4 separate regions of the Homo sapiens genome follow, and regions 1, 2 and 4 are each linked to region 3. Evidence: fine-mapped expression QTL. A gene starts in region 3. Each other region holds a variant in brackets. All regions are shown on one strand. Distances are between the middles of the regions.

Region 1 (2,688 bases), 190 kb before region 3:
CTTTAAAAAAGTTCCGGTCGGGAGTAGTGGCTCTCACCTGTAATCCCAGCACTTTGGGAAGGTGAGGTGGGTGGGTCACCTGAGGTCAGGAGTTCAAGACCAGCTTGACCAATATGGTAGAAATCCGTCTCTACTAAAAATACAAAAATAGCCGGGCATGGTGGCACACGCCTGTAGTCCCAGCTACTCAGGAGGCTAAGACAGGAGAATCACTTGAACCTGGGAAGTGGAGGCTGCAGTGAGCTGAGATTGCGCCACTGCACTCCAGCCTGGGCGACAGAGCGAGACTCCGTTTCAAAAAAAAAAAAAAAAGCTCCTGAATGACCTGTCTTGGTCATATAATATTGAAATAAAGATATGAGACCAAAAAAGACCAAGTAACTCATATACAGAGAGTTCCTAGAGACTTCTAAATACCAGGTAAGAAATCTAAGTTAATTATCATGCTGACTTCCATTGATAATTCTTTTTTTTTTTTTTTTCAGACGGAGTCTCGCTCTGTTGCCTAGGCTGGAATGCAGTGGCGTGATCTCAGCTCACTGCAGCCTCCACCTACTGGGTTCAAGTGATTCTCCTGCCTCAGCCTCCCAAGTAACTGGGATTATAGGCACCTGCCACCACGCCAACCTCCTCAGCCTCCCAAAGTGCTGGGATTACAGGTGTGAGCCACTGCACCCGACCGGATAATTCTGCTTTTAAAAGAAATTATTTTATGATTCCAACACATTCCCATACTGATAAAATATAAAAAATCACATTCTTTCCCAGCCCCATGATGTCGCCTCTTACGTAGAATCTTTCGGAGCACCTGTTTGAGTACTACCATTGGAGCATATTCTTTGCCATCAAACTGCTGGGTCAAAGACACCGGGCCGGGCACGGTGGCTCACGCCTGTAATCCCAGTACTTTGGGAGGCCGAGGCGGGCGGATCATGAGGTCAGGAGATCGAGACCATCCTGGCTAACACGATGAAACCCCGTCTCTACTAAAAATACAAAAAATTAGACGGGCGTGGTGGTGAGCGCCTGTAGTCCCAGCTACTCAGGAGGCTGAGGCAGGAGAATGGTGTGAACCCCGAAGATGGAGCTTGCAGTGAGCTGAGATCACGCCAATGCACTCCAGCCTTGGGGACAGAGTGAGACTCCATCT[C/CA]AAAAAAAAAAAAAAAAAAAAAAAACTAATAGGGGCGGGGGCGGTGGCTCACACCTGTAATACTAGCACTTTGGGAGGCCGAGGCAGGCGGATCATCAGAGGTCAGGAGTTTGTGACCAGCCTGGCCAACATGGTGAAACCCTGTCTCTACTAAAAATACAAAAATTAGCTAGGTGCGGTGGTGCACACCTGCAATCCCAGCCACTCAGGAGGGTGAGGCAGCAGAATCACTTGAACCCAGGAAGGCGGACGTTACAGTGAGCTGAGATCACGCTACCGCACTTCAGCCTGGGCAACAGTGAGACTCCATCTAAAAAAAAACAAAAAAAAAAACACCAATAGGAGAAAAGTGTGTGTGGTCTCATCCTATACCAGGCTACACATATTATCAGTCTTTTCAACTCTTGCCATCCTGTTAGGTATTATACAAACTATTAGGTTAACTAATACATGTTTTTTGCTGCCTTCTTTCCGTAAATTATCTATTTGGGCCTCTGCTCATTTTTGTAGTCCTACTTTCCCCCCTAGACCCTAAAGAGCTCTTTGTATATTAGAAACAGTAACCCTAGACTGTTTTATTAACCTTGTATTTTCAATCATAAATCAATAAAATGATCAATGGTTTTATATAATGAACAGAAAATCCTCGTCTATTCCAAGTTTATTATTGAAAAAAAATTATAGGTAAATTACTGTTTTTCTAAATTAAATAAAATTCTAAAAATCTTCTGTAGAGACAAGGTCTTGCTATGTTGCCCAGGGTGGTCTGGAACTCCTGGCTTCAACTGATCCACTTGTCTTGGCATCCCAAAATGCTGGGATTACAGGCGTGTGACACTGTACTGGGTTTTAATTTTGTTTTTTAACTGTAGTTTTATAAAATGTAATACATCTGGCAGGGCAAAGTTCTAATTTTTAAATTTAAAAAAATCCCTCAGTTCACTATCAAAGGGCAAAGCTCTCTTTCATACCCCTTTTTCCCCCTTGTTTTCTGGTGACTGTCACATATTTATTCTTAATAAGAATGCTAGAATAATTTTGTCAAGTTTCAAAAACAATCTATGCAAGTCTTTTATGTCCTTCAGTAAATTTTTTTCCTAGAGGTTCTATATATTCCTTGTTAAGGTTATTTCTTAATTTGTTGTTAGTGTGAAATGGATATTTTCTCCCATAAGATTTTTCTAACAGTTGCTAAAGTGTATTCAACACTTTCACTTTACTTTCAAAAGTCTTACTAGTTTATATATGAAGACTATTCATTTACATATGGATTTTGAAATTTCTATTTGCTAAATTTTCTGTTTCCAACCTTTTCAGTTAATTTCCCCCAATTATCTGCAGAAAAGTATTCTTGCTTTTTTTTTTTTTTTTTTTTTTTTTGAGACGGTCTTGCTCTGTTGACCAGGCTAGAGTGCAGTGGTGCAATCACAATTTACTGCAGCCTCTACCTCCTGGGCTCATGGGATACCCCCATCTCAGCCATCCAAGTGGTTGGGTCTACAGGCATGTGCTACCATGCCTGGCTAATTTTTGTACTT
Region 2 (2,688 bases), 290 kb before region 3:
CACATCATCAGCTTGGAAAGCACAGCTGCCTGGAAACTGAATTCTCACCTTCAGCCTCTGAGAAGCTAGAAAAGACGGTTGGCTGGCCAGTAGCAGTGGCTTGCACCTATAATCCCAGCACTTTGGGAGGCCAAGGCAGGAGGATCACTTGAGCCCAGGAGTTTGAGACCAGTCTGGGCTATGTAGGGAGACCTCGTTTCTACAGAAAAAAATTTTTTAATTAGCTGGGCAAGGTGGTGTACGCCTGTAGTCCCAGCTACTCAAGAGGCTGAGATGGGAGGATTTGCTTGTGCCTGCGAGTTTGAGGCTGCAGTGAGCCATGATGGCGCCACTGTACTCCAGCCTGGGTGACAGAGTGAGACTGTGTCTCAAAGAAAAAACGGCTAGGCGCTGTGGCTCACGTCTGTAATCCCAGCACTTTGGGAGGCTGAGGTGGGTGGATCACCTGAAGTCAGGAGTTTGAGACCAGCCTTGCCAACATGGTGAAGCCCCCATCTCTATTAAAAATGCAAAAATTAGCCAGGCATGGTGGTACACACCTCTAGTCCCAGCTACTGGGGAGGCTAAGACAGAAGGATGGCTTGAGCCTGCGAGGCAGAGGTGGCAGTGAACTGAGATTGCGCCACTGCACTCCAGCCTGGGTGACAGAGCGAGACTCCATCTCAAAAAAGAGAAAAGGCTAGAAAAGGCATCACCAGGTCACCAGGGCAAAGGCCCTTTGGGCTTGAAAAGCATTGCTCCTAAAGCAGGGCCAGGACTTAATTCTAAGTGGCTGTTATGTGGTAAATTGTTCAGCTTTGAACGATTTCACAATCGTTTAAAGACATAGGAACCAAAGGCATGCTTTAATGCAAGTTTACTTCCACATGCTAAATATGCTCCAGCCCTTCCTTAAATTCTGCAACGACTGTGTTCCCAGTGAGTGTTGCGTGAGGGCCCGAGTGTGGTGCTCCACACAGATGTTTTTATGCAGGAAGTCCTTGTTCCTGAAGCCTCAGAATTTGATGAGTGGGAGCCTGAAGGCACAACCCTAGAAGGCCCTGTGACTGC[C/T]GTCATCCCCACTTGGCAGGCATTGACCACGCTTGACCTGAGCCACAACAGCGTCTCCGAGATCGACGAGTCTGTGGTATGCTCTCAGCAGCAGGTGCCAGGGGTTTCTCTGGCCCCACCAAACCCTGAGTTTGAGTATTTAACTCAGCTTTTTTAGGAAGGACCACGGAAAACCTATATCTAGTGCTCTGTGCATTGCCTGCCATTTTAAGTTAATTACAAAATGGGGGCTGGGCGTGGTGGGTCACACCTGTAATCCCAGCACTTTGGGAGGCCGAGGCGGGAGGATCACTTGAGGTCAGGAGTTCGAGACCAGCCTGACCAATGTGGTGAAACCCCATCTCTACTAAAAATACAAAAATTAGCTGGGTGTGGTGGTGCACACCTGTAATCCCAGCTACTTTGGGAGGCTTAGGCAGGAGAATCGCTTGAACCCGGGAGGCGGATGTTGCAGTGAGCTGAGATAGGGCCACTGCATTCCAGCCTGGGCGACAGAGTGAGACTCCGTCTCAAAAGAAGAAAAAAAAATGGGATCATTTAAAATTGGTGAGGTAGTACTTAGAACCAAATAAAACATAATAATTTCATGTAAATTTGGTAAACTATAACACACTAAATGATGACATTTGCTCCAAAGAGTGGAGCAGAAAAATCACTCCTTAGATGACAGATGTGCCCATGAAAGAATGACACCCAGAGGGCATTTGGGCAGTAAGAGTGTCGTTCCCGTGTTTGCGCTGCTCAGGGAGTGTGGGCAGGGTTGAAGAAGAACAGACTCTCTTCTCTGTCTGGGACCTTGCTGTGTGTCATTTTCACAAGCCAAGTGTTCCATGAAAACTGAGTAGTGCCCAGCACTGGGGGCCCTGTGTGTGCCTTTGGATGTGCTACTGGCTGGGCAGCGGGAGATGTCCCACCAGTGGTCCTGCAGGGACGGCCCGTGGGAGTCCATGGTCGGGAGGAAGCGTCCTGGGGTGCCCGTCCACTGTGTCGGGGACCGTGTTTGGGGTCCAGCCCCCTACAGTAACATCGGGTGTTCTTTTCTTTCACAAGAAACTGATCCCAAAGATTGAGTTCCTGGACCTGAGTCACAATGGATTGCTGGTTGTGGACAATCTGCAGGTAGTGCCTTTGGAGACCAGTGCTGCCCGCACACACTCCCAAGGCCCCGCCCTGAGATTTCAGGAGACTGACGCAGCCTTGGGAATTGGCCAGGGGTTGTAAGGGCAGGGGTTGCTGTCTTCGCTTTAGGATCCCAGCAATGCACTGAGTGATTGTTGCTCTAGTTCCAAAGAATTAGGAAGCATGAGTAAATACAAACCAGGCATGATGATGCACCTCCGTCCTGAAGGTGGACAGCCATGTTTTCAACGCCCACCCCAACTGTCTGCAGGGGTGCCACTGTGCTGTGGCATGTGCGGCAGAGAAGAGGGACTTCCCTTCCTAAAATAACTGTCAGAGTGACTTGCAGAACTGGGTAGTTTGGGTTGGAAGGCCCATCCTGCCATTAGTGTCAGGCCCCTATCTTTGGAGACTTGACCTGAGCCACTTTACGCTGTTCTCCACGCCGCTGCAGCACCTGTATAACCTTGTGCATCTGGACCTGTCCTACAACAAGCTCTCCTCCTTGGAAGGGCTTCA
Region 3 (2,688 bases):
CAGATTTAAATTTGAGAAAGATCACTGAGGCTGCAGTGAAAGTGATGGATTGGAGAAAAGCAAGTCAAGTGGCGGCGACCAGTTGGGAAACCGTGGCCATAGCTTTGCTAGAGACAACAGGGTGTCCTGGATTGGGGTGGTAGCAGTAGAGATGAGAGGAGGCCTATTGTCTTAGTGATAGATGAATATAATCAGTGTTGGGGTGCGTGGGGAGGCTTAAAAATGACTCCAGGTGTCCGGCTTGGGCAACTGGTGGGTTGGTGTCACTATTCACTGAAACGGAAGACATGAGAGAAGGTTTGGCGGGAAGAAAATGAGTCGAGTTTTAAGTGAATCCAGCAGTCTACAGTAGAGACGTTTGGGGCCCTTCATTCAAGGAATAATGCTTGCTAGGCGCTGTATTAAGTCCTGGGAATGCATGATACCGGCTCTCATGAGAGTATCGGGGTTGGGAGAAAGGTGTGTAGATCACGCATGCCAATTAGTACAACAAAGAAGTAGATAGGCAGAGACTGAAAATTTTTACATAAAACTTAGAATTGTAATTAAAGAAAATGAAAATTAAAAGGAAAAAAATTTAACACAACAAAGAAGTAGAAGTAGTTCTGGGCGCATATTACAGGGAGGCCAGGCCTCGTCTTGGTCTGGGACCATTTCCCTGAGGAAACGCCATCCGAGATGAGCCTCTTGCGACCACCCCCGACCTAATCTACCGGTCGGCGCCCTCGGCGCACTTCTGCCCGCCCCCGCCCCTTGCCGGGCCCCACCCCTGCAGACCTGCTTGCCGTCCCGCCGGTGCTTCACAAGCGTCACCTCTCCATAGCTCCCCTTGCCCACGACCCGCAGGTAGCAGTAGGCGGCCAGGGGCATGTTCCCAGCGCTGGCCCAGAGTCGGGATGCGGCGGCAGCGGCGGGTAGGGCAGCGGGCGGCAACAAGAAGCTCGGTTCATGCCCGAGAGGGGGCAGTGGGGGCGGCTGTTGAGGCAGCCGGGCCCGGGCGGGATTGCTGGGGCCCGGCCCGCGACGACGCCGCTGCCATAGCGATCCGGGCCGGGAGCAGTTCTGCGCATGCTCCTGCGTCCCCAAAGGACGGCCATAGAGCGGACGCCACGAGCGGCCAGAGAGGTTCCGCAGCCCCGGGAGGACCCGCCATAGAGCAGAGGCTCCAGGAGGCCAGAGCGACTCCGCCAGGCTCCGCGCACTTTCTGTGCGTCCGTTCCACCGTCCGGATCCCCGCCACAACAGAGTCAGGGAAAGCTTCCTCTTTTTGTGCACTTGTTTGTCCTAAGGCCGTTACAAGTATTGTTCGTTCATTCTGCAAATATTTGTTGACCGCCTATGTGCCAGGCCAACAAAGTCCCTGCCCTCCTGGAGCTCATGTTCTAATGACTGGGTGACAGACTCTCTACCAGTAACATTTGCTGTATCCGCTTTATCACATGCCGTCTCTGCATCCAGCAATCCATCCTATTTTTTGATACATTCAAAGTAAATTATCAGTACCTTTCATCCCTAAAAACTCGCCTGCTAATTGAGAACTACAAAGACTCCTCAGCATTTAACGACTACCCTAACCACTGCACTAAGAGACTTGACTAAACTCTAACATGGCATCATGCTAAGTTAACAGCCTAAGGGCGGATCTCTAGGTGGGCCTAGGCCCCTTTAAAATGCCTGCCCAAGAAAGCTCAGGGGTGCCAAAAGAATTCACCATTTGTTCCAGCCAAAGCCTCCCTTTCCCAGAGCGCTTCCTTTTTTTCCTTTTTTTTTTTTTTTTTTTTTTTTGAGACAGGGTCTCGCCCTGCCACCCAGCTTGGAGTGCAGTGGTGCAATGGTGCTCACTGCTGCCTAGACTTCCTGGGCTCAAGCCATCCTCCCAACTACAGGCACACACGTCCATGCCTGGCTAATCCTATTTTATTTTTTTTCAGAGACAGGGTGTCACTATGTTCCCCAGACCGGTCTTGAACTCCTCGGCTCAAGCAATTCACCCACGTTGGCCTCCCAAAATGCCGTTATTACAGGTGTGCGCCATCGTGCCTGGCCTCTTTCCTTTTTATGGCCAAATAATATTCCATTATATGTATACACCACAATTTGTTTATCCATTCATGCAGTCATGGACACGGATAGCTTCCATCTTTTGGCTATTGTGAATAATTCGGCTATGAACATGGGTGTACGAATATCTGTTTGAGTCCCTGCTTTCTTTTTAATTCATTTGGGTATACACTCAGAAGTGAAATTGCTGGATCATATGCTAATTCTAGTTTAATGTATTGAGAAACCACCACACCATTTTTTACAGCAAGCTGAACCATTTTACATTCCCATTAGCAATCCACAGGGGTTCAAATTTCTCCTCATCCTTGATATATATCTTGATAGGAGATTTGGGTGTATGAATTTGTCAAAATTATCTAATGGTACATTTAGTATTTGCACATTTTACTCAAAGCAATTTCATCTTCACTAGAAAACCAAACAAAAAGAACCATAAATAAAGATTGAACTCTAGTTAATGATATTATTAAAGATAAACAAAGCCAGGCATTAAAATGATGAAAATAGATTTTATTCAGTAACTACTGACAGTAGGGGAAGCAGCTGAACTCCATTCCATTTGCGCAGGGGTGATTGGGCATTCCAAAGGAAGAATAAGGGAGTAGGCAGGGGAGCATGCAGGGG
Region 4 (2,688 bases), 160 kb before region 3:
CTGAGGTACTTAAAATGGTGATCAAATTTCTATCAGTCTAACCTCAGGACAACACCTTAGAGCTATTTTATTTAAAGCATTCGTGCACTGAAGCCAAACCTTAAAAGAAAAACGCTGTTACTATTTCCAATTAGAAACATTTATCTTTTTAAAAAACACATTCTATGAAAGGCTGTATTTTAAGTTTATGCTTTTCAAGAGATTTTCAATTTTGTCTTCCTCCTCACTGGCCTTAAACTAGATGACTTAGTGGTGTGCCTTCTCTCCCCCACAGAATATACTCACTCTTAAGAAGTTCTGGCTGATTAGAATTCAGAATAGCATGCTACCAACTACAAATCATGTATGTAAGTGGAAATAGTACATCAAAGCAATATTCTTTCATCTGTTTTGTATTAAATAGCACATATCCTCAAAATAAAAATGGCTTTGAAAACATACCGATTCATCCTTCTTGCTCGTTCCAATACTTCAAACATATGCTCTTGAAATAAATCAAGCCGACGGTAGCGATTATTTTCAACATTCTTCCTAATTATGTCAAATGTAAGGGGTGGTTTGTTAGGAAAGTTGGGATCCACAGCAGGAATTTCTGCTAAAGAATCGCTGTAGCATCTTCCCTCATCATCCTGATGACTCATGACTGACACAAAAAGATTGTGGATAAGCTCTTGAATCAGCAAAGTCACATTTGGGACATGAGAGTCCTCATCTCCCTCCAGGTCTCTGCGTGTTTCAAGCAGGACTTTGTGTAGAACAAGAGCATCTTTGTAGATCAAAGACTCCGGCTCATTGTATGTACAGGCATTATTAAACATCATGACAAAGTCCTCAACCATAGAGTCAATATCTTGGTACTTGTTGGCCATCATGTGACTTCGAATTTTTTCCATGTCCATGGGCTTTTTAATAGTCAGATAGTAGTCAGGCAACTCAGATCTAGAGGGAAGCCTCAGAAATATGGCACTGAGGCGGCGACCCCTCTTATCAGTATAGTTCTTTACAGCTTCATAGACCTCATTTAGTTTCTGCTGCATTGGAGTCATGTATTTTGATTTTTTAGGAGAAATGCCACTCTTCCTACCTAA[A/G]GAGAGATATTTAATGTTAAATGAATAAAATAAATGAACCTAAATTTGTATACAGATGGTAGCATAACCACAAGGGACGATTCCAAGTAATTTGTAAAATCTAGCAATTAGCATGTCTATAGTGAAATATAACCTGCAGACAAAAAAGTACTAAAAATTTTTTTTAACTGTTTTCAGTAATTATATTTTTGATGGGAGACTACTGTAAGGTTGAGAAAGCTGTGAATAAGAAGGAATAAAGCAAATGAGTAGCTATGTGACATTCTATCACCTCTGGTATCCTGGAGAACTGAGATTTTCATCATGGGATAAAAAGAGATAACGGATGTTAAAACGTAGGACATTAATAATTACCTTGAGGCCTTTAATCTCAATTGAAAGTATCACTATGAACTTATGATGTAATTTATCTTTAAATATAAACATACAAACAAACACACAAATTTCCTAGCTCTGTCCACTGAAAATCGTACAAACAATGACTACCTCAGTAGCAGTATAGCCCACATTAGAGTTTTAAAATACTAATTCCAAATAGTAATGTTGAGGAGCCCTCACCTTTCAGCAGAAACATGAAAAAGGTAGGGCTCCTTGGTAAATGGCTGATTCCCAGTCTGGTATATCTTCAAACACTAGACAGTAAAGAATCTATCAATGACTTCTTACCATGACTTCATGTCAATAGAATATAGGAACCGGCTGGGCGTGGTGGCTCATGCCTGTAATCCCAACACTTTGGGAGGCCAAGGTGGGTGGATCACCTGAGGTCAGGAGTTCAAGATCAACCTGGCCAACATGGCGAAACCCTGTGTCCATTAAAAATACAAAAAATTAGCCGAGTGTGGTGGTGGCGCCTGTAATCCCAGTTACTCGGGAGGCTGAGGCAGGATAATTGCTTGAACCCAGGAGGTAGAGGTTGCAGTGAGCTGAGATCAAGCCATTACACTCTAGCCTGGGCGACAGAGCGAGACTCTGTCTCAAAAAAACAAAACAAAAAGAATACAGGAACGAGCCTGAACCAGCCTGAGTATCAATAAGGACAATAACTTCAATTACAACTCAGCCATATGTTTAAGTCTGGTAGTTCTTAATAATACGTACAAACAAACAACAAAATGGGTAAATATTGAAGGATGTTAGTAAACCAATACATATTTTGAAAACTGGTAAAGGTGAAAACAAAATAAAACAAAAATCAAGCCTTTATCCTTTCAAAAAGCAAGACACACACAAAAAAAACACTGTACCACTGGCTAATCAAATATTAGATAAGGCAAAGTTTCTCTATAGCTAATAAGGAATAAAATTAAAAACTATCACAATTTTACATCCCTTTCATGAATTAATAATTAATGAAGTATGCAACAACACCTGTTAACAGAAAGCCATAAATAGATTTCACATGTACCTGATGGAAGACCATATATTACCTATGAAGTCGGTTTTTCTGCCTAAGGGAGAGAACAGGGGATCAGACCTCAATCTGATCAAGCCTCTGGCTCCAACTACCAATTTATAGGAAATACAAAGGACAGAGGAACACATGAAAGTACAACATAGTGGGCCAGGAGCTGTGGCTCATGCCTGCAATACTAGTACT

Which allele goes with the higher level. Alleles are on the strand shown, and positions count from the first base shown. SD is a standard deviation of normalised expression in the study named. Not every link is listed here.
As copies of CA replace C in region 1, the expression in lymphoblastoid cells of the gene that starts at base 1,064 in region 3 goes down (large effect, 1.8 SD a copy in CAP).

What was found. PIP is the estimated chance that this variant, and not a neighbour inherited with it, causes the effect.
Region 1: its variant is fine-mapped to the expression of NEK4 in lymphoblastoid cells (CAP, PIP 0.95). The same link has a PIP of 0.9 or more in lymphoblastoid cells after a statin.
Region 2: its variant is fine-mapped to the expression of NEK4 in lymphoblastoid cells (GTEx, PIP 0.99).
Region 4: its variant is fine-mapped to the expression of NEK4 in whole blood (TOPMed, PIP above 0.99).

The regions. Positions count from the first base shown.
Region 1 is chr3:52,581,946-52,584,633 of GRCh38, forward strand. The region is part of intron 22 of PBRM1 (polybromo 1); the gene reads right to left. Among named protein-coding and RNA genes, the nearest start is that of UQCC5, 47 kb to the left of the region's middle. The variant C/CA (reference allele first, on the strand shown) is at 1,151.
Region 2 is chr3:52,475,474-52,478,161 of GRCh38, forward strand. It overlaps NISCH (nischarin), which reads left to right. Exons shown (of 21, transcript NM_007184.4): 8 at 974-1,126; 9 at 2,101-2,169; 10 at 2,624-2,688. Among named protein-coding and RNA genes, the nearest start is that of STAB1, 19 kb to the right of the region's middle. The variant C/T (reference allele first, on the strand shown) is at 1,051.
Region 3 is chr3:52,769,877-52,772,564 of GRCh38, forward strand. It overlaps NEK4 (NIMA related kinase 4), which reads right to left and starts at 1,064. Exons shown (of 16, transcript NM_003157.6): 1 at 778-1,064. The coding sequence starts at 870. RefSeq lists enhancers at 841-1,358, 1,146-1,195 and a silencer at 876-985.
Region 4 is chr3:52,608,872-52,611,559 of GRCh38, forward strand. PBRM1 (polybromo 1) reads right to left here. Exons shown (of 32, transcript NM_001405607.1): 18 at 442-1,084. Among named protein-coding and RNA genes, the nearest start is that of UQCC5, 74 kb to the left of the region's middle. The variant A/G (reference allele first, on the strand shown) is at 1,089.